2 linked regions of the Homo sapiens genome follow. The protein of the gene in region 2 purifies or fractionates together with the protein of the main gene of each other region. This does not show direct contact. Each region holds a gene or a part of one and is shown on either strand. Other genes may lie near its edges.

What was found.
Region 1: the proteins of PADI1 (region 2) and STAP2 purify together in Homo sapiens (affinity purification with mass spectrometry; 2 studies listed by BioGRID and IntAct, with this or other methods). This does not show direct contact.

What each region holds. Positions count from the first base shown.
Region 1 is NC_000019.10:4,325,001-4,328,910, forward strand, and holds part of STAP2 (signal-transducing adaptor protein 2), read right to left. Parts: intron 3,810-3,910; coding exon 3,675-3,809; intron 2,386-3,674; coding exon 2,316-2,385; intron 2,227-2,315; coding exon 2,124-2,226; intron 2,008-2,123; coding exon 1,942-2,007; intron 546-1,941; coding exon 396-545; intron 309-395; coding exon 216-308; intron 1-215. UniProt on the Homo sapiens protein: Substrate of protein kinase PTK6. May play a regulatory role in the acute-phase response in systemic inflammation and may modulate STAT3 activity.
Region 2 is NC_000001.11:17,202,998-17,206,907, reverse strand, and holds the start of PADI1 (protein-arginine deiminase type-1), read right to left. Parts: upstream 1,781-3,910; 5' UTR 1,691-1,780; coding exon 1,599-1,690; intron 1-1,598. UniProt on the Homo sapiens protein: Catalyzes the deimination of arginine residues of proteins.

The sequences.
Region 1 (3,910 bases), on a different chromosome or scaffold from region 2:
TGGTGGCGGGCACCTGTAGTCCCAGCTACTGGAGAGGCTGAGGCAGGAGAATGGCGTGAACCCAGGAGGCGGAGCTTGCAGTGAGCCAAGGTTGTGCCACTGCACTCCAGCCTGGGCGACAGAGTGAGACTGTCTCAAAAAAAAAAAAAAAAGTCAGATGAGGGCTGAGGCTGGCCTGCCATCAGGTGAGGGTGGGATATGGGGGGGACCCCAACCTGGCTTGGGTCCAACGGGTGGCTTTGGAAGCTTGGCAGGAGGCTTTGGCAACTTCTTTGGCTTCAGGATGACTGGCCAACTAGAGGAAGCCACTGCGTGGACAAAAGTGTAACGTGTCACATCAGCTGTTAACCTGTTTCCCCAACCCCCAGCTCTCAGCAGCTCTGTTCCCCACCCACCATCTTGGTTCTCATAGTCAACAGCTGGGCCATCTCCAATGGGGGTCACGTAGTTCTCTTCCTGGTTCGGTAGTGGGGGCAGTGGGGGCAGCTTGTCCTGGCTAGACGCAGGTGACAGCGGCTTGGGGCCACCTGTGCAGGGTGCAGGACCTGATGGGGAAACGTGGTCACTGTCAAGACCCATGTCATACAGGGACACCTTGCAGGTTGGCGGGGGGGTCTGTGTGCATGCCTGGAGACAGGCATGTGTCCCTGTGTGTCTGTGTGTGTGCCCATGTATAAGTCTGTGTCTGGGCCGGGCGCGGTGGCTCACGCCTGTAATCCCAGCACTTTGGGAGGCCAGGGTGGGCGGATCACCTGAGGTCAGGGGTTCAAGACCAGCCTGGCCAATATGGTGAAACCCCGTCTCTACTAAAAATACAAAAATTAGCTTGGCGTGGTGGCAGGCTCCTGTAATCGCAGCTACTCGGGGCTGAGGCAGGAGAATCGCTTGAACCTGGGAGGGAGAGGTTGCAGTGAGCCGAGATTGCGCCACTGCACTCCAGCCTGGGTGACAGAGCAAGACTCCATCTCAAAAAAAAAAAAAAGTCTTTGTGTGGCATACACGTGTACACTAATTGAATCTAGATAAGTTAAAGTGCAACGTTTGTACACACACACCTGTGGTGTGTATACGTGTGTGACTGCACGCCTGCTGAGGTGGCTGCTTTAGTCCTTGTCTACATGAGTGCGTTTTGCCCGTGTATCTACACGTGTCCGAGTTTGTGCCGGTGCACGGACGTATCTGCATTTATGTGTACACATGTGATTGTGGCATGACACAGGTGTATCTGTGCTACATAGCATTTGTATGTGACTGGAATTGGGGCACACGTGTATTTATGCATGTGTGATCTGTTGTGCCCGCACAAGTGTGTGTCACCTTCTGGCTAGGCAGGTGGCCACAGTTGCATGGATCATGCATGTGTAATGTGTGTGTGGATGTGGCACTTGGGGGTCCTTGCATACGCCCAGACCAGGGAAGACCAGACAACCCACGCTACATTCCTTTCTAGTGTGTTCTCTGCCTCCTCTTCCCACTCCATAAACAGGACCGATTTCCACCTCTTTCCCAACACCCACCCGGATTCTCGGTCCCTGTGGGGCTACTGCTTGTCCGGGTGTACCCTCTGACCCCTCAATGCCCATTTCTACCTAAGGAGATCCTTTGGGACCATCTGCAAAGACCCACTCTTCTGGGAAGCTTTCCCTGCTCTGCCCCCATCTTCTCCCGAACTCTAGGCGCCTCCCCCGAGCCCAGGTTTTTCCTCCACCCCAAATTCAACCCTACAGGATGAGAGTGTCTGTGTTTAGCTCTGTCCCAAGCTGGGACCCCCGCCCCCTCCCCCACACACACACCCTGACGGCAGGGTCTGAGTCATTTCTGTCCCTGCAACTTTGGGAACATCAGATGCAGGAGGTGCAGCCACCAAACTGACTGAGGGGGCGTGGCTGAATGCGGGGTCCTCGATCCCTCCCACCTCGGCCCGCGGGAAGGGGGCGTCACCTGGGCCCGGAGCGGAGGGCGCCACCCACACATTCTCGCCATTCTCCTTATCGGCTTCCACGTAGCCTGGAACAGAGAGGGCGGCCTGGAGGAAGCGCGGCGGCCAGGGGCGGCCCGGTCCGTCCGAGCGGGGGCGGGAGAGGTGAGCACTGGGCCCCCGAACTCCCCGAAGGGGCACCCACCTAGCACCTTCTCGTAGTCCTCGTCTAACAGGAATGGCACCAGCGCCTTTTTGGTATGCGACACGAAATAGTTGACCACGGCGTCCAGGGAGGTGCAAGAGAACTGGGGGCAGATGGGGGAGCGGTCAGGCTGCTGGAGAAGGGACGCGGACCCCACAAAGTCACTTCTAGGGACTCTGGCCCAACGCTCACCGGCTGTTCCACATCGATCACGTACTTGGGGCCCTCCCGCTTCACCTTGTAATGCCGGACCACGTGCGTCCTGCACCAGGAGAAAGCGAGTGAGTGGCTCAGCCCAGGCTCCCACACCGCCCCTCAGGGAAGGCCCCGCCCCAACTCCAGGCTCCGCCTCCAATAGAAACAGGTCCATACTGGCTCCGCCCCCACAGAAGGCCCCGCCACTGACTGGTTCCACCCCATAAAGGACCTAAGCCCCGTTGACCTCCCGGAGCACTGACTGCCCGATCCCAGCACTGCTCCCAGCGGGGACCAGGCCCGACCGACCCACCCCCACAGAAGACCCCACCTCTAGTCTTGGCACCACCTCCAGCGAGGGACCAGGCCAGACTGACAACACCCTAGGAAAGGTCCGCCCCTAATTCTGGCACCGCGCCTAGGGAGAACCAGGCCCTAAAGACCCCGCCCCAGGTAGGCCCCGCCCCCTGTAATGGCTCCACCCCCAGGCACCGACTCTACCTTCTACATCGCCTTGCCCAACCCTGGACTGGGCTTGAGAATTTGGCATAAGGCTCTGACTTCGCCCCCAGGGCTGGCTCCGCCTCCATAGCCCTACTCAACTTCCAAAAAGGATCACGGCCATGACTCCCCCCCGTAGATCCTGACGCTGCCCAAAGAGCCCATTCCCATCCCTGGATTTGACTTCATCCCCTCCAGTGGCCCAGACCTGGCCCCTGCGTACCTGACGTTCCGGAGGGGCCGATCCTAACCTAGGAGTCTGACTCCACCTACAGGGAGTCCCAGCTCCTAACCCAAGACCTGGCTCTTCCTGCAAAGGAGTCGGCCTGGGCTCTACCTTCTTCCCTAGGCATTAACCCCATACCTGGGGCAAGGCCAGCCTCAGGATCCCACGACCCCGGAGCTCTGATCCCGCCCCCAGCCCTCCCTGCCCAGCTCTGACTCCGCCCCCATGCTCCCCTGCCTAGCATTGACTCCACCCCTCCCCCAGCCCGCCCACCCCAGCTCTGACTCCGCCCCAACACGCCCAGCGTAGCTCTGATTCCGCCACCAGTGTACTCTGCTCAGCTCTGACTCCACCCGCCCCAGCTCGCCCAGCCCAGCTCTGACTCCTCCCCCAATCCGCCCAGCCCAGCTCTGACTCCTCCCCCAATCCGCCCACCTCAGCTCTGACTCCTCCCCCAATCCGCCCAGCTCAGCTCTGACTCCGTCCCCAGACGCCCGTCTCGGCTCTGGCTCCGTCCCCTGGCCTACCCACTAGCGGGTCGGACTCCGCCCCTGCTTCTGACCACGCCCCCGCGCCCACCCTCTTCCCACCCTCCTCCCACCCAGGGCTCTCCAGACGCGCATGCGCACCCGTTGTGCATCTGCCGCGTGGTGACCGACACGCCGTCGGCGCCGTCCCCGCTGGGCCGCAGCAGCAGGTTCCCGCACTCGGGGTAGCGCTCCAGGAGCAGTTGTGCCTCCAGCCGGCTCACCTTCAGGAAGCACCTGTGGCGGGCCGCGTCACCCACTCGGGACCCCGGAGACCAAGTCCGCTCTTCTGCACGTAAACCCTGCCTCCTCTGAGACCCAGCCCCATCCCCATCCCC
Region 2 (3,910 bases):
GGAGTTTGAGACCAGCCTGACCAACATGGCAAAACCTTGTCTCTACTAAAAATACAAAATTAGCCGAGTGTGATGGTGGGTTCCTGTTATCCCAGCTACTCTGGAGGCTGCGGCAGAGAATTGAACCCGGGAGGTGGAGGTTGCAGTGAGCAAAGATCTCGCCACTGCACTCCAGCCTGGGTGACAGAGCGAGACTCCATCTCAAAAAAAAAAAAAAAAAAAAAGAAAAAGAAAAAAAAGACTTCAGCTTCAGCTAAACAGCAGATTATTTTAGTAGAAATATCTCCCATGCAATATACTAAAAAAGCTTTTTGTTTTTTATCTGAAATTCAAACTTAACCAGGCATCCTGTATTTTTATTTGCTAAATCTGGCAAGCCTATGTTAACAGGGCAAGAGACAATGGGGTCTCTGCTGGCCACCTAGACCCGAGAGAACCAGCCCCCACAGCGGGGCTCCCAGCAGCAACTTAGAGTCAAGGTTTGGTTTCCATGGCTCCTGGTTTTCCTCCCCAGCCCTGCCACCGGGGTCACAGACCACTGCCCAACAGAGAAGCAGGAAGGGCTTCTCGAGCAGAGGATCACCAGAGGCCAGGTGGGCAGCTGGCCCTGGGCCCCACATACATTAACCAGACCAGCAGGTACAGGGGCTGAGTCCCAAGAGGGAGAAAGGAGCTCAGATCTCACCCAGTAACAGACCCCCAGCACCCAGCTCCTCTTTGAGGGAGACTCCCACCACGAGCCCCCTATCTGCAAGGGGTTCAGCCCCACCTGCTCCAGCAGGGATGGAATCCATAGACAGCCTCTCAGAGTTGGAAATGCCACCAGAGATCACCAAATCCAATTCCCTTAGTGGCCAGGTAGGGAAACTAAGGCTGAGTCCCCGAGTCCCCATCTGGACACAGCCAGCACAGGAAAGATTTGGGTCAACAGGAGAAGCAAATGCTACTGATGCCCCCTCAGATGTCATCATTGCCACCATCACCGCCATCATCGCCATCATCACTGTTCATCACCATAATCAGCGTCATCACCATCATCTCACAGCAAACATAAGTCCCAGCCGTCTTGCTCCAGGTTCTCTCTTCATATTAATTCATCGAGTATTTCCTAACCACTCCCTCCTGATTGGAATCAATCTAGTTATCTCTGGCTGACCTCCAAGGGTCAAGCTACCACACACGTCCCTTCACCTCAAAGAGATGGGGGCTTGGCAAGAAATTGAGGGAGGTGGGAACCAGTTCTCTTCCCCATCTTGAGCCATCTGATGTTCCACACAAGTTCTACCTAGGTGTCAGAATGCAGGGCCCAGACCCCAAAGCCTGACCCCAGGGCTCAGAGTTAGAAATCTAAGGCTGGACTCTTACCCAGGGGATTGAAGCCAATGTCCTGAGCCCAGTGCCCAGGAGCTGGGGCCCCAAGGAGGACCTGACTAGACCCTAGTTCCTTCCTTCCAGACTCCACAGCCAACTCCACCTTCTCTGCTATCTCCTGCCAGCATCCTTTCCAACGTGCCTGACTTGTCTACCAGGCACCCACCCCATTGACTTACACTCTAACCCAGCTCTCTGCAGCCAGGAGAGCGCCTCCCAGCTCTTACCTGTGAATGTCCACATGTGCCTCGACTCCCACCACACACACGGCATGGGTAGGCATCTTCAGGGACAGCTGCACAACTCTCTTTGGGGCCATCCTGTCACCTGGCTCCCAGCCTCCTAGATCAGCCCTGGCTCCCCAGCTCCCGTCCTGGGCACTTCTTTGCCAGGAAGAAGTGTGAGTTCTGATGGACTGGTGCCTCCTCCTCCCTTTAAATTTCACCCTGCGACCTGATTAGCCTGGCTGAGCCTGGTCCCCACCTCCTGGCTCCACACCCTCCTCACTCAGGGCTGTCAATCCAGGAGGTCAGGGGAGGAGGTGCCCAAGGCCTGTCTGGGAGATGGGGAAGGGGAGCTTCAACTGGGGGCCCCGGGCGAAGCAGGACTCACCTGCTGACAGGAGACCCTCCAGAGCTCCCCAGCAGCCTCTGCCCTCCCCTCCAAAGACTCCTGGTGCCTGAACCCCTATTACAATGATGTCAGTGTTTCTGTGGGCTGACTATGTGCGGGCTCTGCCTATAACCACCTGTGATCCTTATCAAACCTTTTAACCTCTCTGTGACTCAGCTGCCTCATGTGTAAGTTGGCAGCTGTAACAGTAGTACCTGTCCCATTGTGTTGATGTGGGAAAGACATGAGTTATGTGTAAGAAGATTAGCACAGCTCCTGGCACCTGTGTTCACTAAAACACTAACAATTATGACTTTTATCCTCATTTTGCAGGTAAGAGAACCATGGCTGCAGGTCTCACTGCTAGTAAGTGGTAGAGTTATAACTTCCACGCAGGTTCACCCGTCTCGCCACACAATACCACCCCCCAACAGGTGAGGGTAGGCCCTTGTGCCCAGACTCCACAGACAGCAGAAGCCACCCCAGGCAAGCATTCTTGGGGAGCCAGAGAGGAGGGAACTTGAAAAAGAGCTCAGAGCAATGACCTGGGAGCGTGGACTCATTTCTGAAAATCCCTCTTCTTTCAGCTCAGCACAGCAAGCTTCAGCCTGTTCTGAGGCTCTTTGTAGAACTTCATTTGTTAATTTGACAAGTGTTTGTTAATCATCTTTTATGTGTCAGGCACTCATTTAGGTGATAGGGATACAACTATGAACAAAAGAGACCATGATTCCTGCTCTGACGACATTTATATTCTGGGGGAGACAGACCGTAGGTGAAGTTAAATGAGTAAAGTGTGTATGACATCAGATGGTGCATTAAGGTTCTTCCCATTATCTAAGCGAGGGATGGCATGGCTTGGTCCCAGGGTAACAGGGAAGGTGGTGGGAAGTGGTTGGATCCTGAATGTATCTTGAAGGTAGAGCCGATGAGGTTTGCTGATGAGTTGGATGTGGGTGTGAGAGAGAGTGGTCAACGATCACTGGAGTATTTGGGACCCGAGCAACTAGAAGGATGGAGTTGTCATCAGAGAGATAGGGAAGGCTGCAGGAGGGCAAGCTGGGCAGGGAGCTTGGCCATTCTCTGTTGGACTTGTTCGACATGAGATGTCTGTTAGAGCTTGGGGTAGAGGTGGTGAATTGCAGGTGACGTGTTCCCTTCATATCGGGCATTGGGGGTGATGAGAAGAGCCGTTTGCTCTGGAATCGCAGGACACCCATCCTCAGTAATGTGGTCCTCTTCTTCCAGGGGGCTCTTATACAGAGTGGGAAAAGGGGCACATAAACCAGAACTCTAGTGTCCACAGGGCTGGGGTGGCAGGGCAGCAAAGAGCAAGAAAGAGAGAGAGAGAGAGAGAGAGAAACAGCCTTGCCTGAGGAGTTGTCAGTCTGATGGAAGATGTGGGGGACACACAGTCCCTGGCTGCAGGAACCCCAGCCTGATTAGGGAGGCAGGAAATAGTAAAATGGCATAAACATTTATTTGGTTACTTTTGATTTTGAAGATATTTTTGAAACCATCTTTCTTATTGCAAATGTTATTGATCTGCAAAGTTCATTACACCTGAAGTCACCAAGACAAAGTCTAATTTTACCCCATGGATACAGAACCCAGGGAAACAGGTGTTCAGGGATGGTTTTCCATCACCCAAACCCCAAACCTCAATTTACCAGGACCTCAGTCATTTTGTTTAACAGCATTTATTGACATAAACGTGTCCATTTCTTATGGAATGGAATGCAGAGTGGAACAAGCAGTTTCCTGCAGAGCACATGGGTGTGTTCCCATTAGAGAAGATTAAATGGATGGATGGATGGATGGATGGATGTGTGGGTGGATGGATGGATGGATGTGTGGGTGGATGGATGGATGGACAGACAGATGGATAGGTGAACGATAGGAAAAAGGGAGGCAGGAAGAAAGGCAG